Homo sapiens: one gene and its partners. The protein of the gene in region 4 purifies or fractionates together with the protein of the main gene of each other region. This does not show direct contact. Each region holds a gene or a part of one and is shown on either strand. Other genes may lie near its edges.

Region 1 (4,127 bases), on a different chromosome or scaffold from region 4:
TAAAAATATTTGTGGCTGGACACAGTGGCTCATGCCTATAATCCCAGCACTTTGGGAGGCTGAGGCGGGCGGATCACTTGAGGTCAGAGTTCCAGAACAGCCTGGCCAACATGGTGAAACCCTGTCTCTACTAAAAATACAAAAATTAGCCGGGCGTGGTGGCGCATGCCTGTAGTCCCAGCTCTGTGGGGAGGCTGAGGTGTGAGAATTGCTTTAACCCAGGAGGCGGAGGTTGCAGTGAGTCAAGATCGCACCACTGCACTCCAGCCTGGGTGAAAGAGCAAGACTCCATCTAAAAAAAAAAAAAAAAAAAAAATTATATATATATATATATATATATATATATATATATATATATATATATATTTTGAGGTTCGCGATGTATGAACCCTGTAGTAGCAGCTTCAGCATCATTTGGAAACTTGCAGAAATGCACATTTTTGGGCCCCACCTCAGACCAACAGGAACAAACTCCACGTGGGACCCAGCAATCTGCATTTATATAAGCCCTCTTGCATTGTCTATTTTGAGAATTTCTTATGCTATTCCTTTCAAACAACTCTAGCTTTCACTATTCATTACTGAGATCATCTCCTGGCCCCAAAGGCCTCTGCATTTTCTAGCACAAGGGAGCAACTTGCAGACCCCTGGGTTATTTATATACCACCTCAGAGGAGCTACACCAGGCTGGGAGAAAACACTTCCAAAGTCCAGTCAAAAAACTGTTAAAGATTTTTGTTTTTCTAGGTGTGGGTGTGGTTTTAAATTTGTTTTTCTGATTTGTTTGTTTTCCATCTATGGAAGACCTACTGGTTCCATAAGACCTTAATTTTCTTTTTCCTTTGAAGATTAAAAAGGGCTGTGAGGATATTGCTAACTGAAAATTTATGCAAGTAAAATTAGAATTTTCCATCATTCTCCTTCAACATTGCCAGTATATAAGAAGTTTTACTAAATTCAGAAGCTAATTTTTTTTAGCACGTACCTATTTTGTTAGTGGGCATAGCAGGTCCCTTTTCTTTCTAGCCAAGTGTATTTCTCTGCCCCTTCTTCTCCCACAGAAGATAGCAGCAGATCTCATCCTATCCAGTAATTGCCCCAGAAATACTGTGAAAATTTTGACACCTTCACCGCCGTTTGTGAGATAGAAAAGTTCGTTTTAAAAAAAGAACTGTTGGCCGGGCACAGTGGCTCACACCTGTAATCCCAGCACTTTGGGAGGCCGAGGTGGGTGGATCACTTGAGGTCAGGAGTTCAAGACCAGCCTGGCCAACAGGGTGAAACCCCGTCTCTACTAAAAATACAAAAATTAGCCAGGCGTGGTGGTGGGTGCCTGTAATCCCGGGTACTCAGGAGGCCGAAGCAGGAGAATCACTTGAATGGAGGCTGCGGTGAGCCGGGATCAAGCCATTGAACTCCAGCTTGGGTGACAGAGGGAGACTCCGTCTCAAAAAAGAAAAAAACGTTGGTGACATTTCAGACCAGAAGACCTGCTCCTGACAATGGTTAGTATAGGGGGATTTGTTGATTTTCTCCAACTAGTATGTTTCTCATGATCTATGTAGGCTCTTTGCAAAGTACTAAGTGTTCAAATATCTGGGCTGCCTTAGAATGAGAAAGGGACACCCAAGGGACAGTTATCTATTCCAAACACCCTGTGAAAGGCTTCTGGTGCTTGATATCTTGACCTTCAGAGCACATATCCAAGAGAGGGACTACTGTGGTACACCACCATGGCAAGGTGGGCGGAGGGTATGAATGCTGTCAAGCATATTTTTAATCCCAGAATATGGGATTTAAAAAAGTATTTAATCCCAGGATCCTTTTCTTTCTTTCTTTCTTTTTTTTTTGAGACAGAGCCTTGCTCTGTCACTCAGTCTGGAGTGCAGTGGCGCGATCTCCGCTCACTGCAAGCTCCGCCTCCCGGGTTCACGCCATTCTCCTGCCTCAGCCTCCCGTAGCTGGGACTACAGGCGCCTGCCACCACGCCCGGCTAATTTTTTTGTATTTTCAGTAGAGACAGGGTTTCACCGTGTTAGCCAGGATGGTCTCGATCTCCTGACCTCGTGATCCGCCCGTCTCGGCCTCCCAAAGTGCTGGGATTACAGGCGTGAGCCACCGGGCCCGGGCCCCCCGGATCCTTTTCTTGCCACATCTTCTAAGAGGAAGTAGAGGTAGAAGTAAAAGTCTTTGTCAAATGTCCAGCCTAGGTCGCGGCGCGGTGGCTCAGGCCTGCAATCACAGCACTTTGGGAGGCCAAGGCGGGCCAATCACTTGAGGTCAGGAGTCAGCCTAAATATTCGGCAGAACCAACATGGGACGAGAGCGCTTCTAAACCTAGGTCCCTGCACCTCTTCGCACAAAGTTTAAAGATGGTTCACCCCATCCCCACCGCCCAGAAGTCACTGTCAACCACTCCAGAAGGGCTTGAACCTACAAAGTCTGCTCAAGCTGCTCAATAGCTCCCAGATATGGAACACCTGATTCTCCTGGCCAAAAAGGTTTCCCCTTCACACCCCACTTCCCATTCCAAGGAACCCCATCTCTTGATTTCCCCACCTGGGAAACAGGGCGTTAGCGCCAAAGTGCAGCTGAGGTCCTGAACTGTAAACGGAGATCCCGAGGGTCTGGAGCTGCCGAGAGTGCGAGAGGCTCCCACTCCCCGCCGGAAGAAGGGGCTTGGGCCTCCTGGGTCCCTATCCGGGGGCGGGGACCAGAAGGTTCTGGCTGAGGCGGACGATGCGGTGGGAACCTGGGCCCAGTCCCACCATCCGGGCCCGGGGCTCACCTGCTGAACTCTGAGGGTCTCACGCTCCAAAGTGGCGGCCGCTGTTCGTGGCGCCTGGCAACCGCCTTTGTGACCCAGGACGGCAGGGCAGCCCGAGCCGCGGCGGGGATGGGGGCTCGAGGCGCCCTACTGGGAGGCGTCAGGGCCACACTCCCCGCCCCCACCTCATTGGAATGCCTTGTCCAGGACTTGGCCTTCAGGAGGGCTGGTCCGAATCCTGTCCCCTCCATTGTCCTCCTCCCTACCGTGCCACACCTGTGTACCTGTGTGCCTTTGATCAAGCCACAGAGGACAGGCGACCCCTACTTCAATGGCCATGGTCAGAGGCCTGCATAAAAGTCCCAGGACCTGTAGTTAGTGTTAAAAGTTAGTCCCAACTCATCACACTCTGCTCAGTGGGTGCTCAGGCAGAGTGACCCAGAGCTCTGTCAGGTTTTGTTGCTCTATTTGAATGATCCCAGTGGCAAAGAAAGAGAATTAATAAATGTTCACCTGTCAAGAGCAGGAGGAAACGCACGTCTTTCCTTGATTTCCTGACAGAAAACCTTTCTCAGCCTTGCGTTAAACCTGAGAGTACCTGTAATCCCAGCTATCTAGGTGGCTGAGATGGGTAGACTGCTTGAGCCCAGGAGTTCAAGACCAGTCTGGGCAACGTAGTGAGATTCCCAGCTCAAAAAGAAAACAAAAAAATCTCAAAAAGAATGATTTTGTCTCATTCTTATAATGCAGAAATACACTTTCGCCATATTAGTGAAGGAGTGATTTGACAACTTTGTAATCATCACTTAAAATAATGACCCTGGATGGCTGAGGGAAGGGAGGAGTCTACCCAGCTGATGTCTGTATTCCCAGTACCTGGCTATTGCCATGTCTGGCAGTGTGCAGTATTTGTGGGAGGAAGTAACTAATGGCCTACTTGGCCTTCCCTTGTACACCCAGAATTGCCCTTGCATTTTACAAACTATAGAACACACACCACAAATAAGACTTGTCACCTTTGTTCTGGTTTTTTGGGTAAAGCTGATGGAGAAAGACTGAGGGTCTGAGAATAGAGTCAGGCAAGATCCTGATTTAGAAGACACACACCCACTGTGTGTACATGTGCACCTTTTGGAAGAAGAGGTAAGTGGAGAAGAGTCTGGAGGGCATGTCGGGTCAGAACATGAAGAGAGAGGCACAGAATAGTGAGACTTGGAAGAGACACAAATGATTTTGAATTACAAAACTTTTTTCCCCAGTTAGTTCATTTTTATTTCCCTCTTTTTTTTTCTTTCTTTTTTTGAGACGGAGTCTCACCGTGTCACCCAGGCTGGAGTGCAGTGGCTTGATCTTGGGTCAC
Region 2 (3,500 bases), on a different chromosome or scaffold from region 4:
CCAAAAATTGTATTAATAGCATCATGCTGTACCTGTCACATGACACTGTATCATACAGGTGAAAGAGCTCAACATGATCATGCTATAACTCTGGAAAAATGTCCCAGATCAGAAGAAATTGTTGCTTCTCTTCTAATACAGTTACAGGAATGGAGAGGGTAGTTAGGATGGTGCCTGTTTCTTAGGCCTGGGATAATTCTCTTCCTCTGCATTTGGATGGTGTTGCAGAGTCTAGACCTGGAAAAATGTCTAGATTGGTATAATGTAAATTCATAAATGGGGACTGCGCACGTTACTGGAAGCTGGTTCTGGAACTGGTTAGCCTTGGGATTGAGTCCTATGGTGTGATCTTAGACAATTTCCTTACCCTCTCTGAGCAGTGAGACTGCTGCCTCTGCACCTTATACTTATGAGGATGGAGATAATGTATGTAAAAGGGCTAAGAACAGTATCTGGCACATTGTTAAGCCCTTAATAAATAGTTGCTGTCTTCATTACCACGCAGCACTGTGTTTAGGACAAGGTTGTCAAGGTCCCCTTTTCATACATTTTTCAGCACAGTCTATTACAAATATTTTCACAATAATAATATAAGCTTAGTAAGAAAATACTTCATCTACAGGACAATTTGCTAGAACTCAAAAGATAAAAGCAATCCTTGCCCTTTTTTCTAGACCACCTCGTTTCTGCTAATAAAAACCCATGTTCTTGTCTTTTAAGGGTTCCTGAAGTCAACATCAAAATCAACAAATGTCATGGGTACTGTTTAGCTCTGGTCACTACACCTTCCCTAATACAGTTAGGCCAGATTCTTGTTGATTATTATTTTTCTAGCTTTTCTAGCTTTCGGGAATTAACTCTGGAAAGTTCTGTGATTAATAGTTCATTTCTGTCTGCAGGTTGGCTGTGGTGTGGGAAACACAGTCTTTCCAATTTTACAAACGAACAAGTAAGTATGTTGTAAAAGTTTATGATAGCAAAGAAGATAAAAGTGAAGGTTGGCTGGGCGCATTGCTTCACGACAGTAATCCCAGCACTTTGGGAGGCCAAAGCAGGATTGCTTGAGGCCAGGAGTGTGAGACCAGCCAGGGCAATGTAGCAAGAAAAAAAAGTAAAGATTTTTTCAAAACTTGCTGCATCAAACTATCAATAATGGTTATTGGAAAATATGGATTATGTCAGATTCAGATTTCTACATTGTTCATTTATGGATTGTTTTAATTTGATTATCTTTATCATTTGGAAAATTAGACTTAAAACTTGCTAGTGTTAACGTTTAGTGCCTTCTTCTTCTTCTAAGGAACAAATGTGTTCAACTTTTCCATTCTCATGATCTCTGAAGAACAGTCAGTGGCTGAGTTGTCATTACCCCCATGGTAGAGTTGAGAAAGCTATCATACATGAAGATGTCTCCTGTTCTGATGAAAACACACTGGTTTTGTGTACTTAAGCAGAACGCTTCTGACACCAAATGTGCAGGGTTTTTGCCAACACTGACCAATTCAACAACAGCTGGGTGTCCTACAATTCAATTCTGACACTGTCTACTTGGAGTTGGTATCAGATCCCACAAGTTAAGGGTTCGGTCCCAGAAGACTGCCCCCCACTTCAGATGCCAGTTGTGAATCTGGCCCTCCGTGTTTCTGCCCTACAGGCTGTAAATCAGGGGAGCCCTGTCTCCAGTTCAATAATTTCCTAGAATGGCTCACAGAACTCAGGGAAACACTTTACTTACATTTATGTGTTTGTTATGAAGGATACAGATTAACAGCCAGCTGAAGAAGTAATTAGAGTGGGGTTCAGAGGATCTCACGCTCAGGAGCTTTGACCCTGAGGAGCTCAGTGCAGTGTTCTCCTAGCACACGGATGTGTTCACCAACCTGGAAGCTCATCAAGGGTTTTTTTTTAGTTTTGAGACAAGCTCTTGTTCTGTCATCCCGACTAGAGCACAGTGGTGTGCCCATAGCACACTGCAGGCTCAAACTCCTAGGCTCAAGCAATCGTCTCACCTCAGCCTCCCAAGTAGCTGGGACTACAGACACATGCCACCATACCCAGCTAATTTTTGTTTATTTTTTGTAGAGACAGGGTCTCACTTTGTTTCCCAGACTGGTCTCAAACTCCTGGCTCAAGTGATCCTCTTGCCTCGGCCTCCCAAAGTGCTGGAATTACATGCATAAGTCACCGTTCCCAGCCTCAAGAGTTTTTATACAGCTAGGACACAGACTTATGGGAAAATTAATTTTAAAAGGAGAAGAAGAAAATAGTTTTCATACAACATAATCTGCATTTCTATTCAGGACATTGGTGGGTGAAGCTGAAAGTTCCAATCAGTTTGCCCTTACTAGTGTTGGCCCCACCCCAGGTCATCTCATTAACATAAATTCAGTGTGGTCCTGAGGGAGTTCATCATGAATAACAAAAGATACAGAGTCTTGCTTCATCTCCCAGGTTGGAGTACAGTGGCACAATCTCGACTCATTGCAACCTCCGCCTTCCGGGTTCAAGTGATTCACCTGCCTCAGCCTCCCTAGTAGCTGGGATTAAGGGTGCATGCCACCACACACAACTAATTTTTATATTTTTAGTAGAGACAGGGTTTCACCACATTGGCCAGGCTGGTCTCAGACTCCTGACCTCAGGTGATCTACCTGCCTCGGCCTCCCAAAGTGCTGGGATTATATGTGTGAGCCGCCGCGCCCAGCCTGCTGAGGAAATTCTTAAGGTTTTTGGAACTCTGTGCCTGGAACCACAAAGACCAACACCAAATATATTTATTATACCATACCTGTTTTGTTTTGTTTGAGACGGAGTCTTGCTCTGTTGCCCAGGCTGGAGTGCAGTGGCGTAATCTTGGCTCACTGCAACCTCTGCCTCCTGGGTTCAAGCGATTCTCCTGCCTCAGCCTCCCAAATACCCGGGATTACAGGCATGCGCCACAATGCCCAGCTAATTTTTGTATTTTTAGTAGAGATGGGGTTTCGCCGTGTCGGCTAGGCTGGTCTCGAACTCCTGACCTCAAGTGATCCACCCACCTCAGCCTCCCAAAGTGCTGGGATTACAGGCGTGAGCCATGGCTCCTGGCCCTATAGCTGTTTTTAAACCCCTTGTGGAAATGACATTCCAGTTCTGTATTCATTACTGGAATCCACTGTTTCTCAAAGGTTTCATATAATATATACTTTGCCAATTTAGCCCACAGTATTCATTAACAGGATTAAGTAAAACATTAGCCTCATTACTAATATACATTTAAATATTTCTACAATTTGTTCTCAGAAATTTCTAAGAAAATGGCAAGTCCTAGTACTAACACTGAAGAAAAGAGATTGTTCTACTCTTGAAGTTACAGTCTGAGGAACCCACCTCAAATGGGAGATTGACTTAGCTTCAAGTTATGGCCATTAATCATCAATATCATCAATGAATGTAAAACTGAATGTAGATGGCATCTTTGCCACAGCCTCTTTATGCCATTTAAATAAGATCGCTGTGTTCAG
Region 3 (3,952 bases), on a different chromosome or scaffold from region 4:
ACACCACTGCACTCCAGCCTGGGTGACAGGGCGAGCGAGACTCCGTCTCAAAAAAAAAAAAAAGGAAGAGAAAGAAAGAGATGAAGGAAGAGTGAGAGAACTAAGAGGGCGGGTGGCTGGAGGGGGATGGGCAGGAGGGGCGCAGGAGGGAGCAGTCAGACCTCCAGTTTGCAGGAGACTGAGCAGGCCTAGCCCAGGGCCCTGGCTGTCGTGATGGAGGAGGGGACCTCCAGGTGACCCACAAAAGAGGCTGAGTCACAGGCCTTGTTCTTAACTGAAAACATGGGCTGAGGGAGAGCAGAGAGTTGAAATGGCTGGAGGAGCAGCAGTGGGTGTTGGAGAGGCTGTGACCCCTGTTTTGGAGTTTGAGGGGTCTGGGGGATGGCCGTACAATGCAGAGGAGTGTTCTGGACAGAAGCTTAAATGTTGGGAATCACCGGCACCGGGAACCAAGAGGGTGCACCCTGCCCAGGAAAGGTTAGACTACCAGGCTGGGAGGTCCCAAGAAACCCTAGGTGTCACTTAGGGGAGAGGGTGCTGTAACTCAGGCTCACCCCCACTCAGCCCGGGCTGGCAATGGCTGGCTGGAGAGCCAGAGGGTAGGAGATGTGGGGCTCTCAGGTTTCACAGCTCTCATTTCTCCCACCCCGCCTGGCAGGGTCTAGCTAGGCTCTGGCAAAGAATCAGAACATAACACTGGGACTGGCTCCGATGAGTAACCCAATGCCAGGCTGGTTGGAGTGGGAACCTGGGCTCCCCACCCCCATGAAGCTACTCCTCACTTCTGAGCATGGCTTGCCTGCTTGCCCCTGCCCACTCCCAAGCCTTTATCCACGCTGTCCCCTCCACCTGGAATGCCTCCTCTGGGCCCCACTGGGCAAAACCCGACCTATCTTCCCAAGGCCTGCTCAAGTGCTGTATCGTTTCTGGACTTTGTCCCCCTTCCCTGCTGGCCTCCCACTGCCCACTAGTGCCCTTCCCTAGAACACACTCCACCACCTGCCTCTATCACAAGGGCCACACACTGGAGGTGAGAGTCTGTCTCTGAGTGTCTGAGACTGAGTGCCTTGGGAACAAAAAGCACACATGGCCCAGCCCAGCCCACTCCCAACTAAAGAAGTGAGCCTAGGAGTCAAGATTCGAAATCCTGTGTGAGCCCTGAATGGCTCCTCAGCCTCTGTTTACACGTCTGTAAAATGGGCTAATAATCCACCTCACTGTGATGATCAAGTGAGTTGATGCGTAGAGGGCATCAATTACTGTGCCTGGTACACAGCAGGTGCTCCATAAATGCGTCTCCCCTCTTCCTTCCCAGGGCCTCACCTGGGGAGCTGAGAAATCCATTACTGACAACTAGGGCTTCTAGGAGGAGAAGGGGCCTTTGTTTTACCTTCACCCACATCAGAGGACCCACACTTCACACCTGCTTTCCTTCACAGCCAAAGTAAGCACTGATGAAGGCAACAAGTGCCTATGGAGACCCTGTTGGTGTTCCTCCTGCCCAGTTACACAGGCCACAACACAATCCTGCCCCCTCCGCCTGGGGAGTCAGGGGAGAGGCATCAGATGTGGGACTTGAAGGGTGAAAGAGATCCTCTGGAGGGGGGAAAGGCATCCAGGCCCAGGAAATGGCATGGGCAGAGGGAGAGAGGGAGGGAGGAATGAGCCTGGTGAGCTGGAGCAACTGCAAATGGTTTTAAGGCGGCTGCCATGCAGAGGGCAGGGAAGGGACCTGGGGAGACTGAGGCTGCAGAGATAAGCTGAGCAATTGGCCAGGGCTCCGGGTAAGCCAAGGGGTTGGGCTTCATCCTGCAACCACAGCGAAGTTTTTACCTGGGTGGGACGGTATTGGGATTCCAGATCTGGAAAGCTGGCTCTGGAGGCAGGAAAACCTAGAAAGGTCTAAGGAGGTGGCTACTGAGGGCCTAAGGGAGCTGGGAGAGGTGGCCCTGGAAGGCTGCTACCGGGCTTGCGTTCTTGCTCCAGTTATCTCCATGCTGGGGTCAGAAGGAGCGAACCCCAGCCGATAAACAAGACAGTCCCAAGGGAAGACTGCATGTGGGGACTGATGCACCCCACTCCTAGACCAGACAGGACGCCAGCTCTCATTTCTGCTTTACAGAGACTCGCTCTCCTGGGCTCCTTCCTGGGGCTGGGGGGCAGGGAGCGGGGAGGGCGGTCCTCCGTCCAGCCTAGTTTACTGACTCCCTCTCCGGGCCAGATGGGCGCTGGAATGGGTGGCTGGAGAGGGGTTCGGGTCCTGCCTAGGGCGAGAGTAGCTGGAGAGAGGCGCGCCTGAGAGGTTCTTCCAACTGGAAAGAGCTCTTATTCCACCGGTGGGGAAACTGAGGCACGGCGAGGGGAAGTCACCGGCCCAAGGTCACGCGTCGAGCTGAAGGCAGAGGCAGGGTTTGAACCTGGGAGAGCTGGCTCTCGGGAGGCCTCGGCCAGCGACCGAGAAAAGGGAGGGGCGGCGGGGCGGCGGGGCCTGTGTTGGGGGCCGGGCGCGCCGAGCTCACCTGGTAGTTGTCTAGCTGCTCTTCGGTGAAGATGGTCTGCTTGTTCCCCATGGTGGCCGCCGCGCCGCCGCTCGCCCGCCCGGGCTCCGACTCCCATCAGCGGCCGCCAGACCCGGAGCCAGCGCCCCGTGCCCGCGGCCCTCGGCAGCCCCGCGGCTGGCAGCGGCCCACGGTGGCCGGACCCTTCCCGCCCCGCAGCTCGCCTGGAGGAGGCGCGCGGGGGTCTCGGAGGCGGGGACGGGAACCCGGAGCGGCAGCGACTCCGCCGCCGGCGGGAAGAGGGCGGGGCACCCGGCTCCGCGGCTGCAGCGCGCCCGGGTCCCGGCAGGAGGCGACCTGGCCCCGGGAGACGCTGCCCGGCACGAACCCTTGGCTCCCGCGGCCGGAAGTGCTGGGGGCGCGCGGGGGTCTCGGAGGCGGGGACAAAGACCCGGAGCGGCGGCGACTCCGCCCCGCAGCAGGAAGAGGTGTGAGCCCGGGTCCCGCCGTGGGAGTCCAGGTCGCACGGCGTGAGGGTGCGGGGCCTGGGAAAAAACCCTCTCGAGGCGGGCAGTGGGGCGAGTGGCGCCCCTTGACCTGGGGCGGGGGCGGCAGCGAGGACTGTGAGTGCGTGGATCTAGCTGGGGCCGGGCTCCGCCACCGTCTCGCGTCGCGACCTTGGTCAAGCCCTTACCCGGGCCCTGTCCCTCTGGGGAGAAGGAGGGGGTCAGTCAAGCTGACATCTGAGGCCCTCCCGGCCAGGCCTCGGGAAGCCCATCTGGCCTTTGGGCGCGGCCTAGGCAGGGCATCTCAGACCTTCTGTGTTCCTTAGGGAGCAGGACAGGATTTACTTGGCTTGGTTACAAACGTGAGACTTGAGAGGATTTAAAGGACTTGACTGTGTCCACAGAAGTGTGACAAAGGCCAAGACATTTTTTGGAGCTTTTAAGCAGATGCCATTGTAAGGGAAGCAGGACTTTACCTCTGCCCTCCTAGGGTCTTTGGCTGGGCTTGAGAATTAATTTGGCATAAGACAGATTAAGGGGAGAAAAACAGATTTAATACAAGTTTTACATGACGTGGAAGCCCTCATAAGGAAATGAAGACCCTGAGAACTGGCAAAATCTAAATACTTTTTTTTTTTTTTGAGATGGAGTCTCCCTCTGTCGCCCAGGCTGGAGTGCAGTAGCGCGATCTTGGCTCGCTACAACCTCCGCCTCCTGGGTTCAAGCGATTCTTCTGCCTCAGCCTCCCCTAGTAGGTGGGACTACAGGGGCATGCCACCACACCCAGCTAATTTTTTTTTGTATTTTTAGTAGAGAGAGGTTTCACCATGTTGGCTGGGCTGGTCTCGAAATCTTGACCTCAGGTGATCCACCTGCCTCAGCCTCCCGAAGTGCTAGGATTAGAGGCCTGAGTCACCACGCCCGGCCAATTATTGTATTTTTTTTGTA
Region 4 (3,500 bases):
GACAGCATCCTCAGTCTCAGGTGGGGTTGGGGCTGGGGGCAGAACTGGGGTCAGGGATGCTCCACAGTGAGATGGGCTGGCCCAAAGCAGCGTCAAGAAATTACATGGCTCATAGTAGAGACCTTGAAGGGTGAGGGCCATCATGACTGTCATTTAGAAACCAGGCGGATTTTGAAAATGTCATCCTCAGTGCCTGCAGGGAGCACGCTAGTGCCACCTCTCTAGAGGGCTGTTCCGAGGGATGCTACTTATCCTTCAATCAGATAATCCTGTTGAAGGGTTTACCCTCAGAACTCTTCAGAGCTGAAGCCAAACATTCAGGCACACAGATGATAAGTGACACGCTTAATAACCACCAAAGCCAGACACACAAACTAATTGCCTAACAATCGAGGACTATGTAAGTTAAGAAATACACACAAGACGGAATAGTACGCAGCCACTAAAAGTATTCAGACAGAATTATGGCCTGGGGAAATGCCTTCAACAAATATTAAATAATTTGAAAAGTAGAATAAAAATTCTATATAAAACATCTCTATTGCATCAAACTATGTCTCTAGTAAAACAGGTAAACCGGGAAAGGAGCAAACCAAAGACAGCCGGAGATGCCTGGGTTCCAGCGCCAGCTGTGTGACCCCGAGCAACTCTCCAAATGTCTCTGAGCCTTGCTTTACTCCTCTGACAGATGGGAGCACCTGGGCCTGAGCAATCGGCAGCGTCCTGACAGAGAGGAGGGCTGTCAGTCATTTTTATTTGCTCCTTTGTGCTGATTTTTATAATAACCACGTAATGCTTTTAGAATAATGACTTTTAAAACACTAAGTACCTGGATCCCCATTGCTCTCCACCAATGTGGGGAGTGAGCAAGCCCCCTGGCTGGCCCCAGGAGCCACTTCGCCTGTACTTTATGCAAATCCTAGAAGCCGCGCCTCCCGCCCCGCCTGCCCGCCCACACTCACTCGGTGATCTCCTCTGTGACCGTGTGCTCCACCTGCAGGCGGGAGTTGACCTCGATGAAGTAGTGCTTGCCGTGCCTGTCCACCAGGAACTCCACGGTGCCTGCGTTCTCGTAGCCCACCTGTGGGGGCGGCCACGTGAGCAGGGGAGGGCACAGGCAGGGCCTGGGCAAACTCACTGGACTCAGGACAGGGATTCCGTCCCACCCATTGGGTTGGTTCCGTAAAAGAATGGCCTGTGGCAAACCCTGCCCCCACAGATGGCAGACAGACCCCAGGGCCCAGGTCATGCTCCTGCCTGGACACGTCCCCCAAGTAGTCCACTAGGCTCCAGGGTTCCCGGAGCCACAGATGGCTGCACCCAGCTTATCTGGGACGAGACATGGGCAGAAGCCCCCACCCATCCCAGGCTCGGCACCTTGCCCTGCTGCCTCCTGGGCTTGCCCGCCAAGGCTGTGTCATCCACCCAGACACGGAGACCCAGGCCTCTCCCAGCCGCTGCTTCTGCTTGGAGGTGTTTTCAGAAAGTCCCCTTCTAGTCTACTGCGCAGTCACCTCTGGCCACCACCACCCAAAGAAATTCATTTGAGAGGTACCAACAGATAATGACTCTAACTCAAATTTCAGCCCTAATTCCAGTTTCACTTTTGGTCTCACCAAAACGATAAACCAGACTGAATCACCTCCCTTAAACCTGTTCTGGAATGTGAAATAGTATAAGCCAGTAAATAAGACCTGACTTAAACGCGACCCTGGTCGATGCCTCGCATTAGCTGTGGCTGAGGCCTTGCTGCAGAGTGCACACCCCGGCCTTCGGCATGGGGAGGTGACGCATCCTCTGCTGCCTATAGGCCAGGGAAGAAGAGGGGGCAGGACCCCGCTGCACACCTGGCCACAGCAGGTGCTCTCCAGGCCAGTCCTGGGGCAGGTCACTGTGGGGAGATAGCTTGCCACCTCAGCCTCCTCCACAGCCCAGGACCCCCCGACCAGAGGTCCCAGAAAAGCAGAGATGGGCAGAGGGTGCAGAGCAAGGAAACAGATCATAATAAACATGATGTAGGAGACAGAAGCACATGAGGGAGGACTGCCTTCATAATGGTCCTCAATCTTGACAGAATCCACGGAATCTCATTCTCCTGATGACAGGGATGAGCTGATGCCACAGAGAAGCCAGGTCTGTGTAGCAGCAGGGCTGAGGAGGCGGCTGGGGCTCCTTCCCTCCCTCTTCTCAGCCATCCTGGACTCTAAGCTTGGCCTCTGGGCCAGGTGCCTCAACTGCACATGGGAAGGATGCCACAAACCCACTTCTGGCCCCCAGGAGAGTCCTTCACCCTCTTCTCCCCATCCCCAGTCCCCAGAAGGGGACTCAGGGTCCCCTTCCCCAACCAGCGCCCCACTGTGAGGCCTGCCGGCCTGTGAGCACAGGCTCCTGTCCCAACACGGGAAGCCCACCCTTCACCTGTTTAGCGAGTTTCACAGAGTCGCTGGTGAGCCGAGTCCGAAGCTGCGGGTCCAGGTGGGCGGCGGGGGCAATCTCGACCACCTTCTGGTGCCGCCGCTGGATGGAGCAGTCTCGCTCGTACAGGTGCAGGATGTTCCCATACTGGTCCCCTGGGGAGGGAGGTAAACTGGGCTTAGCTTTTACTGGAATCTACACGCCTCCTAAATGCCCCATCACCCCCACATAACCACTGTCGCCAGTCAGTGCCGGCTGCCAGCGGTACAGAGGCTGCCAGGAGAGACACCAGCATCACCAAGGCTGTGAGGACCAACTGCCAGCTCGGCCCCTAGAGCCCACTTTCCAGAGTCCTCTGGAAAAGCGCCCGACAGGCCCCAGGGCTGTCCCCAAGGCCAGCCACTGTGACGGCACCAGGACTGGGCCTCTCAGCTCCCGCCTCCAGCTGCCCCAGGCGGGGCGTCAGGACCACTCACCCAAGATCTGCACCTCGATGTGCCGTGGCTTCTCGATGAACTTCTCCACAAACAGCGCCCCATTCCCAAAGGCGGCCAGAGCCTCTGAGTAGGCCCGGGTGTAATTCTCCTCCAGCTCCTGCGAGGGCGGGCAGGGGCCAGCCAGACCTCAGACCCCACAGCGCTACCTCTCCCCTGCCATGAACCCCACCCACTTTCCAGATCCCTTGAGTGGTCCGCCCCTGCCCCCACGGCAGGCTGCCCTGCCCTGCTCCCAGCCCTGGGCATCTTCACTCACCTCGTAGCTGTGCACCACCCTCATGCCACGCCCTCCACCCCCATAGGCCGCCTTGAAGATGATGGGGAAGCCGTAGGTGTTGGAGAACTCGTGGGCCTCATGCAGGGACGTGATGGGGGCATCTGTGCCAGGGACAACGGGAACACCTGTTGGGAGAAAGGTGTGGGGGAGTCTCTGTAACAGGCGGGAATCCCTGCCACCCCTCCCTGCTGGACCCTCTCCAGGAGCTGCGGGGCCACCCCTTGCTTGCCCGTTATATTCACCCGCAGCAATGGCGATGGCCCGGGCCTCCACCTTGTCTCCCATCTTGCGGACCACTTCTGGGCTTGGCC
Region 5 (3,500 bases), on a different chromosome or scaffold from region 4:
AACTCAATTCTAACATGCTCTGCCACTGCTGGGTAACGTTACGGCCATTCATCATTCACTAATAAATTTCCTTGTTACCAAAAAGGTTTATGATGCCCTGCTCTGATGTAAACATCATACTAAAAAAAAAGGTCATTTAGTGACCAAAGCACAAAGTGCCAGAGGAGGAGATACTGCAAAAATGAGATGAGATAGTCTGATGGCTTGCACCTATCCCAGAGATTCTGTATTCCAACACAGATTTCCAGATGCCTCCCCAACTCCTGACAAGGACTATAATCTTAGTTTGAAATGTCTCAAGCACCTGCTCCCATAGGACGTAAAAGGCCATGCCAGGGAACTCTTGACATTTAAGATTCTTGGTCATGGTGGGGCCCCATGGGGGTGCCCAGGGCATGAGTCTCACCAACGCTCTTCATGCAGCTCCCAATCTTTGTGCTGACTCGCAGGAACTTGCTAAGGTCCCATCGAGGAATCTTCACCACACAATAATCCACGCTGGGTTCAAAGGCTGCTGTACCCCCTGTCACAGAGTTCCTGGGGTCCAGCAGGTGGGATGCCAGAAGGACAGTGAAGGAAGCATAAAGGGTGAGCTTCCGGATAGCTCTTTCCATTCCCACAAATCCAGGCCAATGTCCTTTTCATATTCCCTGTCCCATCAATATTTTCCTCAGCCCCCGACCCACTTCCCCACTGTGATATCTCCCTCATCCTCGTACCTGAGCTCAGGCAAAGGGATGCCCAATGCTAGCTTGGCTGCCACATAAGCCAGTGGATAACCTGTGGCCTTACTGGCCAGGGCAGAGCTGCGAGAGAGCCTGGCATTCACTTCAATGATGTAATACTGCAAAGAAGGAGAATAAAGTCACTGGCCTAGAAGACCCTGTCTAGGAGAGGTCTCAGAAAGGAGAGAAAAGTAACCTAGTAAAGAAGATTCCAGCTTGTACTCCAGGGACTGTAAGCCCAAAAGACCTCAACCTCAAGGGCCAAAAATTATACAAGAAGAGGGGGTAACAACTAGACTATCAGTTCCAGGGCCTAGAGCTTACCTGCTCAGACTCAGGGTTCAAGGCATACTGCACATTGCACTCCCCAACAATTCCCAGGTGCTGGGTCACCTTGATAGCTGTCTGCCTCAGGAGCTGATACTCCCTGTCATTCAGTGTCTGGCTAGGGGCCACCACTATGGACTCACCAGTGTGGATGCCCAGTGGGTCCAAGTTCTCCATGTTACACACCTGTGAAGGGGGGTGCCATGGAGGTCACTGCCAAGCAGAGTCAGGAGAGGCAGAAGGCTGCACCCCAGGGTCCTGTTACCTCTGGGGCTGCACCTAACCTGGGTCTGAGGGACATACAACTCTCAAAGACCTTGGCCTGGGCCTCTGCTCTTCCAAAAGCTCATCCTGCCTGACACGACGCCCACCCTTCCCCCATTCACTCACCGTGACACAGTTGCCATAGGCGTCTCTCACCACCTCGTACTCAATCTCCTTCCATCCCTTCAGAGACTTGTCTACTAGCACTTGGCTGGTATGGGCAAAAGCTGGGGCCACGAGAGCAGAGAGCTCCTCCCTGTTAGAGGCAAAGCCAGAGCCCAGGCCACCCAGGGCAAAGGCTGCACGCACTAGCACAGGGTACCCCAGCCGTTCAGCGGCTGCCTGGGCCTGCAATGAGTGGAAGAGATGAACAAACAGGTTATTTCCTACTGTCCAAGGTGTGCCTGTCCCACATAAAAAAAGATATAAAGAAAATAACATGGCTGGGCATAGTGGCTCACGCCTGTAACCCCAGCAATTTGGGAGGCCGAGGGTCGGGGGGGTGGATCACCTGAGGTCAGGAGTTCGAGATCAGCCTGACCAACATGGAGAAACCCCGTCTCTACTAAAAATACAAAATTAGCTGGGCATGGTGGCGCATGCCAGTAATCCCAGCTACTCAGGAAGCTGAGGCAGGAGAGTCGCTTGAATCTGGGAGGTGGAGGTTATGATGAGCCGAGATCACGCCACTGTACTCCAGCCTGCGCAACAAGAGCGAAACTCCGTCTCAAAAAAAAAAAAAAAAAAAAGAAAATAACACTACCAAAAAAAACACCACCATTCTTCCTTTACCCAAACACCCCTCCAACCTGTTCAAGAGAATTTGCTGCCTCGCTCGGGGCCACATGCTCTCCGATCTCTGCCATTCTGGCAGCAAAGGCCCGTCGATCCTCGGTCAGCTCAATGGTCTCCACTGGTGTGCCCAGGACCCGGACCCCATACCGAGCCAGCACCCCGGCCTTGGTCAGCTCCACACCACAGTTCAGAGCAGTCTGGCCCCCAAAAGTCAGTAACACACCATCGGGGCGTTCATTACGTATCACCTGAGGATGGAGAGGGGAGTTACAGGCATCAGAACCTTGTGGGTAGAGAGGCAATCAAAGTTTAATAACCCACAGTGACCACTGGGCCCCCCTGCCCAGTCCTCTTTTCATTCCAGCCTTGCCCCAGTCATACCTGGGTTACATAATGAGGTGTTATGGGAAGAAAATAGACCTTGTCGGCCAGCCCCTGGGAGGTCTGCACTGTGGCAATATTGGGGTTGATCAGCAACGTCTGGATGTTTTCCTCCTTCAGGGCCTTAATTGCCTAAAAGGACAAGAATGGCATCTCAGCCTCTGCTGAAGAAGCAAAATTGCAAACAGCCTTAGAGTAGCATTCTCCTCTTCTTTCCCTCCCTGTACTCTTGGCCCCTAATAATTGACTTCTATTTCTTACTACATCTTTCTCTACATTCCCCAAATCTGGTTCATTTCCTCCCTGCAACCTTAGCCCTTCTCCTTAAGACCCTTTCCATTCTTGAGGGTCACACGCCCAGAAGGGTGGGGAGGAACATGCCTCACCTGAGAGCCCGAGTAGTCAAATTCTCCAGCTTGGCCAATGGAGAGGCCCCCTGAGCCCAGGATCAGAACCTTTCGTGGTGGTGGAAGTCCAGAGCCGGGAGTGGGAATCCCAGGGGGACAGAGGCGCTCAGTCAGCCGCTCTCTAACTGTGGAAGCAAAGAAGGTCGTAGAATGTTAGAGCTGAGCTGGACCCAAGAGGTCAACTGGATTAGCTCCCTCGCTTTCAGAAGAGTCCAGAGCAAATTATGCACCTCAGGAGGAGCAGAGGGAGGACCAGAACCCAGGACCCTGGAGTTCCTTTCAACAGAAGCTTAAACGGTATCTTGGGTTGGTTGCCACCCATCCCCAATACCCTTAACCTCCTAGACATCTAGGAGTTGCCCAGGGCATGTCCACCTTATGCCCATCCTGGAGCCAACCCTGTTCTTAGGTCCACAACCCAGTTCTACTCAGGATCTTACCTGTCTGGCCCCCAGGGTTCCCAGCTGTGGCCTCTTTCACAGTTTCCAGAAAGATATCGAAAAGCAGTTCCATATCTGAAGGGCCAGCTTGGTGCTCTGGGTGAAACTGGACACTATTGAAGAGATTGCATCATGAAAACCATCATGGTCCCTGGCATGAC
Region 6 (3,500 bases), on a different chromosome or scaffold from region 4:
GCATGGAGGTAACTATGACAATGCATTTTCAATTCTGCAATATATGTGATACGAGTTTTACAAAAGGCTCAAAATGATAAACAGTGTGACATGGTGTCAAAAAAATGTTTGTATTAGTAACCACATGGAGCACACACAGTTACTGCATGGAAGGTTTGTTTTTTCCTTTTTTTGAGACGGAGTCTTGCTCTGTCGCCCAGGCTGGAGTACAGTGGCGTGATCTCGGCTCACTGCAACCTCTGCCTCCCAGGTTCAATGATTCTCCTGCCTCAGCCTCCCGAGTAGCTGGGATTACAGGTGTGTGCCACCACGCCCGGCTAATTTTTTTTATGTTTTTGGTAGAGACGGGGTTTCACCATGTTAGCCAGGCTGGTCTCGAACTCCTGACCTCAGGTGATCCGCCCACCTCAGCCTCCCAAAGTGCTGGGATTATAGGTGTGAGCCACCACGCCCAGCTGAGATTGTAACAGTTAGAACATCCCTGGGGTGGGATGGATGCCCTTGGGAAGAGTAAGCTCCCAGCCCCTATAAGAGATACTGCAGAAGAGGTTTATGTTTTAACCAGGTCAGACCTCTCAGATGTTTTCCAACTCTGAAAGTTTAATGATCTTTAAAAGGTGTTATTTCAGAATAAATGGTGCAACTCTTTATTCACAAATGTCAAAACCAAGGGTCTGAAAGGTCATACTAGTAACTACTGCTATTATTCTCATCTGGATCCAAGTCTAATTTAAATGTACTTTTTCTCAGACCAAGCTGACTCAATGTGGTCTTCAACAAGGAGTTGTCACAGGTTGTTCAAAATGTAGCTGATCTGCCTTAAAGTGGGGTAAAGAGAGACGAAGGTCTGAAGCCCAACTGGTGGGTTACCATGGTAGTTGACAGGGACATCTCAAAGGAATAAATGGCAACAGGCCACAATCATGGATACCTCTAGTGCCTGGGCAGTATACCATGAGCCAACATGGAACACTGGGAGGAGGCAGAGCTGAGATGACAGGAGAGAAGGAAGATGATGAGATCAGTCTGAGGAAGGTTAAGCTGACAGCAAACAGTGCAGATAGAGATGCGGTGCAGAAACACATAGGGTCCAGGACAGGCTTACAAAAGGGAGGATGGAACAAGCACCATGGCACACCTATAAACCCAGCACTTTGGGAAGCTGAGGTGAGAGGATCGCTTAAGCCCAGGAGTTCAAGACCAGCCTGGACAACATAGTGAGAGTGGGACCCAGTGTCTACAAAAAAAATTAAAAATTAGCTGGGCATGGTGGTGCATGCCTGTAGTCCCAGCTACATAGGAGGCTGAGGTGGGAGGACTGCCTGAGCCTGGGAGGTTGAGGCTGCAGTGACTTATGATCATGCCATTGCACTCCAGTCTGGGTGACACAGCAAGACCCTGACACCCTCCACCCCCCAAAAAAAAGAATGAAGAGTATTAAAAAATTAGGAAGAGTATAAATTGAAAACCTAGAAGAGTATTTTAAAGACTAGGAAGAAAGACCCCAAATTGGGTGGTTGGTCAGTGTCAAATATTGCAGAGGAGTTAATGGCAAATAAAATATTTGTGAAAATACTACTGCTGAATTCTGTAAGCAAGGTGTCACTGGCAAACTTAAGGGCAGTAACAGTGATAAGCGAGGGCTATTCTGGAGTTCCTAAGACAGATTCTCCTAGCTGGGAAGGTGATTTTGCAAGTCAGAAGTCCCGCAACTACATAAGGCCACCAACGGCTGGATGGCATAAGCTGGTGACTTGAGTATAATTTTTGGCAGTCTTGGCTGTGATGGCACAATATCAAAAGCATTAAAATTAATAGAGCAGGTCCAAAAGCCACTAATACTGATCTCTTTCCAGAGAGATCTCAACAATGGCCAGTTTTAAGTACTGGGCAATGGAACTCCTGCTAACAGGTCTTTCTGTTTCCAGCTGCCTGTTGCTATTACAAGTGGAACTCTTTACAAGATTTTGGTCCTTTCTGTTATAGCCCTTCCTCTCCACTACTTCTAAAATCAATAAACTAAGATAGTTTACTGTTAACTGAGATAGTTACTATGCTGACTTAATTTACAGACACCTGTCAAAAGCTACATTATACACATAAGGCTACTATACAGAGTTACAGAATTCTCTAGCAGTAGCTCCTGAAGGCCAATATATCGAAACATTTTCAATTTCATGGTGAAAGGAGAAAACCAGGGAAAATGTAGTGAATTTTCAACAAAACCAAATTAAGAGTACTGACTCAGGAAACAACTTGCTGGGCTCAACACCCAGCACCATCACTTACTAGCTATGTGACCTTTCGCAAGTTACTTAATATCTCTATACCCATTTCCTCACTTGTAAAATGGGGATAATAATAGAACCTACCTCACAGAGTTGATGTGCAGTTTAAATAAGTTAATATGTAAAAAAATATTTAAAACAATGTCTTGTTACTTGGTAAATACTATATAAATGTTAACTGCTATTAAATGTTAAAGCTTGCCCTTCCATTCTGGGAGTATGTGCTTCCTAGATAGACTCTTTGGGTGTTAAAAGTATATTCTGTTAACATGAAATAAAGGTGATACTATACTGTCTTTTTTTGTATAATGTCTTTATATATACATCTGAATCACGTATATCCTCTACTGAAAAGTCAAAATGGAAGTTATTCTAATGTCCTCAAAACAATTCACCCAAAACAAAAACAAGTAAAAATGTTTTGAGTCTTGTAAAATGCATGTCAACCCCAAAGAATTTATTAACAGTAACACTTACCCTATATTCAAAATCCGCAAACTCCCGGCCCCCACGACCTCCTCTGAATCCACCGCGAAATCCTCGAGGGGCAGTGAAGGTACCACCTCTGCCACCACCACGCCCTCTGCCACCACGGAAACCAAGACCTCCTCTGCCTCTGTATCCCCCACGGCCACGGTTTGGACGAAGTGGGATTCCAAATGTTTCAGCATTTAATCTTCTTTCTTCAGCCCAGGTTGGTCTCCGTTCTCTATTATAAAAGCAAATAATCTTCAGCATATCAGGTTTAAAAGAATATCCCTCAGCCAAAATATGCAGTGCTACTCCCAAATTAAGCCTAAGTAATTACTAAAGCTAATTAGAAATAAGCATCTTGGCTAGGCGTGATGGCTCACGCCTGTAATCCCAGCACTTTGGGAGGCCGAGGGGGCGGATCGCCTGAAGTCAGGAGTTCGAGACTAGCCTGGCCAAAATGGTGAAACTCATTCTCTACCAAAAATACAAAAAATAGCTGGGCATGGTGGCAGGTGCCTGTAATCCCAGCTACTTGGGGGGTTGAGGCAGGAGAATCACCTGAACCTGGGAGGTGGAGGTTGCAGTGAGTCGAGATCGAGCCACTGCACTACAGTCTGGGTGACAAGAGCGAAACTCCATCTCAAAAAAAAAAAAAAAAAAGCATCTTATCTAAGTTATCACGAGTTGTTCATGGCATATGAGTTCAATATGTTCCTGTAATATTCTGTTAAACTTCAT
Region 7 (3,500 bases), on a different chromosome or scaffold from region 4:
GAAACCCTTTTGAATATACTTCTCTGGTGACTCTCCGTTAGGTTAATTATCTCTCTCCCTTGGACTGTGAGTGATAAATGCTGCCAAATTCTTCCTATTTGGCTTCCTTCTTCTGGATTTTGTTAACACCACTCCCATTCTGTTAACACATTCTTTCTTCAGTTTGACAAAAACCTTTGATTAGATAGATTTTCTTCCTTAGCACTCATGTTACCATCAGGCCTTCCAGAGATTATTGTCCAGTTACCTTGACTGGACTTAAGTGTTTTTCAGGGCCATCTGGTAGACATCTATAAAGTTGTCCTTGAGGATGTAGCAGAACAGGGAACATGGCCCAAAAGCCTCAGAGATGGGAATATGAAACTAAGTATTAAGGTGAAATATGTGTGAGTTATGCCAATTTAGCAATTACATTGCCAGAATGAATCATAGCAATTTAGCATTTGCCCTTACAGATAAACTGCTGTAGGCAAAGAGACATGCAAGAATATTCAAGGCAGCCTTATTTGTAGTCAGGAAAATTAGAATGATTTAAATGTCCCATAGTAGGGGGCTAATTAAATTATGGTACATCCATATGATGAAATTTCATGCAGCCATTAAAAAGGTTAGGGACAGATCTATTAATATTTATTGCTTGCTAAGAGATGGAAAGAACGTGTTGAAAAAGAAAAACTTTAGCTGAATTAAGTTTAACAGAGTTTAAATGAGCAAAGAACAATTCACAAATCAGACAGCGTCCCGAGCCAGAGTAGGCTCAGAGACTCCAGTGCAGCCATGTGGTGGAAGAAGATGTATGAACAGAAAAAGGAAAGTGACATACAAAAAATGGAAGTGAGGTACAGAAACAGCCGGATTGATTACAGCTTGGCATTAGCCTAATTTGAACACGGTTTGAACAGTTGGCCACCTCTGATTGGCCAAAACTTGGTGATTGGCACAAGAGTAGGCTACAGTCTGTATACAACTCCATTTACGTTATAGTTTGTAATGTGCTGAGAAACCTTTAGGCCAAACTTAATATATAAGGAGGCAGCTTTAGGCTAAACTTGAACTTGATTTAACAATTCCCCACTTTCGGTTATTTCAGTTTTAGAGGATGACCAAGACTTTACTCATTGATGTCATTATCACCATTGTAAATGTATTTATTTGGTCTTGGAACCCACTGGGAAATAGCAGAGCAGTGGGTTTTGTAAGGTGGGAACAAGGACTTCAGGTTATTTTTTTGTGAAGGTTAGAGTAGAGGGTACCTCCTTATGGTGGGATGTCCTGTTTACAGAAGAAAAACAAAACTTAGTCTGTTCTAGGATCTATTTGTTTCCTTAAAGTCTTAGTTTGATTATGTCACATTTAGCATAAATGACTCTATTTTGGTTTGGTGTGGTCTGTTGGAGGCTAGTGCATGAGCTTAGTCGAAAACAATGGCCTCCCATAATTTGTTTCCAATTTCTCCTCTTTTGGTCAGTTTCTTACTTAGGTAAGAGTATGAGCAAAACTTAGGGCCTTAGCACTGCTCTCAGTTACCTCATTTTGTGTTTCTGGTCTCAGCACATCATTCATAGGTTATGGTGCCTCTCATGGTCACATATATCTTTTAGCTCTTTTCATTCCAGTTGAAGAGAGACCATTTGACATTCTAGAGATGGCTGCATGCAAACATTTAAAACTTTTGAGAGAATACAGTGCACCACGGAGACTACTGTTATGACTATCAAGAGGATAATACCTAGAGTTTGGACTATGCTCCTTAGCCAGGTTCCCCATAAAACAAACCAACTAAAATCAAATAGATCAAAGAATCAGCTAAAGACTCTACTTGCTTTAACTAAGCAGTCTCTTTGTTAATCCCCTACAACTGAATCTCTAAAATACCAGATGTGATGGAAGTGCCAACAGCTGCATAGATACTTCCCTGTTTAGCCAGCAGGTAATCTAGAGCAATTCTATTATTTAGCATAACTTTCAGAAGAGAATTTTAAGTCTGTTGTGTAACCATATCCTTTACAGTAGAATCTGCTAGAGAGCCTATCATGAGGGATAAATTTCTTTCTTTCTTTTTTTTTTTTGAGATGGAGTCTCGCTCTGTTGCCCAGGCTGGAGTGTAGTGGCACGACCTCGGCTCACTGCAAGCTCCACCTCCCGGGTTCACGCCATTCTCCTGCCTCAGCCTCCCGAGTAGCTGGGACTACAGGGGTCCGCCACCACTCCCGGCTATATTTTTTTTTGTATTTTTAGTAGAGACGGGGTTTCACTGTGTTAGCCAGGATGGTCTCGATCTCCTGACCTCGTGATCTGCCTGCCTCAGCCTCCCAAAGTGCTGGGATTACAGGTGTGAGCCCCTGTGCCCAGCCAAGTTTTGTATTTTTAATAGAGACGGGGCTTCACCATGTTGGCCAGGCTGGTCTTGAACACCTGACTTCAAGTGATCCAACCGCCTCGGCCTCCCAAAGTACTGGGATGACAGGCATGAGCCACTGTACCCAGCTGAGGGATAAATTTCCAATCATTGCCTCATTTACTCCAAACCATGGAAAAAAGGACCTAATACATGATGCCCTTTGAGAAGAGTTAAGACCTCCTGGCAATGATCTTTTTAAACCATGATGTAGGTTAACAGGAGTGGACCAGTGCTCTGTTTCTGACAGACTATGAGGCAATGTATGTGTCATTAAAATTTCCCACCTACATTGGCCCTTTGTCTTCCATCTATCAAGGCATAAGGTTATCCATGTAATAAGGCTGGCTGCAAAATCTTTCACAAATAAAAGTACACCCCATGAGTGCACACAACAGACCCCCTTTTCACTTCTATTATTCGTAGGGGCATAAACAAAGAAAAAATTGAAAGATAAGAGTCTCGTGATAGTAAAGAAGTCTTGATCTGTGATCTTGGGAAAAAGTCTACATCAAGGATACCGTCTTCTTCTGGGGAGAAACTTCCCTGGTTAGCTTTACCTTAAGGTTTCTAATGGGTGTACAGTTCCAAGTATGTGGAGGGACCCTTCTGAGTTATGAAATTATGAACCCAAGGTTCAAGGTCTCAAAGTCTTGATGCAGTATGGATGGCAAGTGCAGTCTTTCTGTGACATTCTCAGAAGACCTACTCTTTGGGCTCTAGATTGTGAAGGGCTTCATGTCCTCAGTCAGTGAACCATGAAAAGCTTTCTTTTCCTGGTGAAAATACACGGTGGCATGATGAGCTACTGTTACAACATCAGTCCTCTTGTGTGGGAAAGCTTTTATACAACCAGACGACCTGCATTGAAAAATGACAATAGAATGAAATCCCTCTATAAATGTTTAAATGTCCCATCAGCTAGCGAAATGTACCTGAAATTTTTATTGTCTTCCCAGGAATATGGGTTTGACAAACCAAATATTGGTCATAAACTATTTTAGCAATGTAGAAGTCACTACACACACACACACACACACATTTAATTTGGATCATTTTATGTTTTTCATGATGAGTTATGGAATGCAGAACTTTTAATAAA

Evidence for each region.
Region 1: the proteins of PC (region 4) and FANCD2OS purify together in Homo sapiens (co-immunoprecipitation; one large-scale study listed by IntAct). This does not show direct contact.
Region 2: the proteins of PC (region 4) and METTL2B purify together in Homo sapiens (pull-down; one large-scale study listed by IntAct). This does not show direct contact.
Region 3: the proteins of PC (region 4) and CIB2 purify together in Homo sapiens (co-immunoprecipitation; one large-scale study listed by IntAct). This does not show direct contact.
Region 5: the proteins of PC (region 4) and CAD fractionate together in Homo sapiens (co-fractionation; one large-scale study listed by BioGRID). This does not show direct contact.
Region 6: the proteins of PC (region 4) and LSM14A fractionate together in Homo sapiens (co-fractionation; one large-scale study listed by BioGRID). This does not show direct contact.
Region 7: the proteins of PC (region 4) and CYP27A1 fractionate together in Homo sapiens (co-fractionation; one large-scale study listed by BioGRID). This does not show direct contact.

What each region holds. Positions count from the first base shown.
Region 1 is NC_000003.12:10,105,456-10,109,582, forward strand, and holds the start of FANCD2OS (FANCD2 opposite strand protein), read right to left. Parts: upstream 2,801-4,127; 5' UTR 2,560-2,800; intron 1,083-2,559; exon of another isoform or gene 1,005-1,082; coding exon of another isoform or gene 986-1,004; intron 1-985.
Region 2 is NC_000007.14:128,479,748-128,483,247, forward strand, and holds part of METTL2B (tRNA N(3)-cytidine methyltransferase METTL2B), read left to right. Parts: intron 1-899; coding exon 900-949; intron 950-3,500. UniProt on the Homo sapiens protein: S-adenosyl-L-methionine-dependent methyltransferase that mediates N(3)-methylcytidine modification of residue 32 of the tRNA anticodon loop of tRNA(Thr)(UGU) and tRNA(Arg)(CCU).
Region 3 is NC_000015.10:78,128,646-78,132,597, forward strand, and holds the start of CIB2 (calcium and integrin-binding family member 2), read right to left. Parts: upstream 2,801-3,952; 5' UTR 2,571-2,800; coding exon 2,520-2,570; intron 1-2,519. UniProt on the Homo sapiens protein: Calcium- and integrin-binding protein that plays a role in intracellular calcium homeostasis. Acts as an auxiliary subunit of the sensory mechanoelectrical transduction (MET) channel in hair cells.
Region 4 is NC_000011.10:66,867,884-66,871,383, forward strand, and holds part of PC (pyruvate carboxylase, mitochondrial precursor), read right to left. Parts: coding exon 3,432-3,500; intron 3,315-3,431; coding exon 3,169-3,314; intron 3,010-3,168; coding exon 2,892-3,009; intron 2,571-2,891; coding exon 2,419-2,570; intron 1,082-2,418; coding exon 963-1,081; intron 1-962. UniProt on the Homo sapiens protein: Pyruvate carboxylase catalyzes a 2-step reaction, involving the ATP-dependent carboxylation of the covalently attached biotin in the first step and the transfer of the carboxyl group to pyruvate in the second.
Region 5 is NC_000002.12:27,223,869-27,227,368, reverse strand, and holds part of CAD (multifunctional protein CAD), read right to left. Parts: intron 3,453-3,500; coding exon 3,340-3,452; intron 3,025-3,339; coding exon 2,879-3,024; intron 2,625-2,878; coding exon 2,493-2,624; intron 2,360-2,492; coding exon 2,126-2,359; intron 1,665-2,125; coding exon 1,443-1,664; intron 1,239-1,442; coding exon 1,050-1,238; intron 845-1,049; coding exon 720-844; intron 538-719; coding exon 407-537; intron 1-406. UniProt on the Homo sapiens protein: Multifunctional protein that encodes the first 3 enzymatic activities of the de novo pyrimidine pathway: carbamoylphosphate synthetase (CPSase; EC 6.3.5.5), aspartate transcarbamylase (ATCase; EC 2.1.3.2) and dihydroorotase (DHOase; EC 3.5.2.3).
Region 6 is NC_000019.10:34,221,004-34,224,503, reverse strand, and holds part of LSM14A (protein LSM14 homolog A), read right to left. Parts: intron 3,018-3,500; exon of another isoform or gene 2,998-3,017; coding exon 2,766-2,997; coding exon of another isoform or gene 2,670-2,765; exon of another isoform or gene 1-2,669. UniProt on the Homo sapiens protein: Essential for formation of P-bodies, cytoplasmic structures that provide storage sites for translationally inactive mRNAs and protect them from degradation. Acts as a repressor of mRNA translation. May play a role in mitotic spindle assembly.
Region 7 is NC_000002.12:218,788,647-218,792,146, forward strand, and holds part of CYP27A1 (sterol 26-hydroxylase, mitochondrial precursor), read left to right. Parts: intron 1-3,500. UniProt on the Homo sapiens protein: Cytochrome P450 monooxygenase that catalyzes regio- and stereospecific hydroxylation of cholesterol and its derivatives.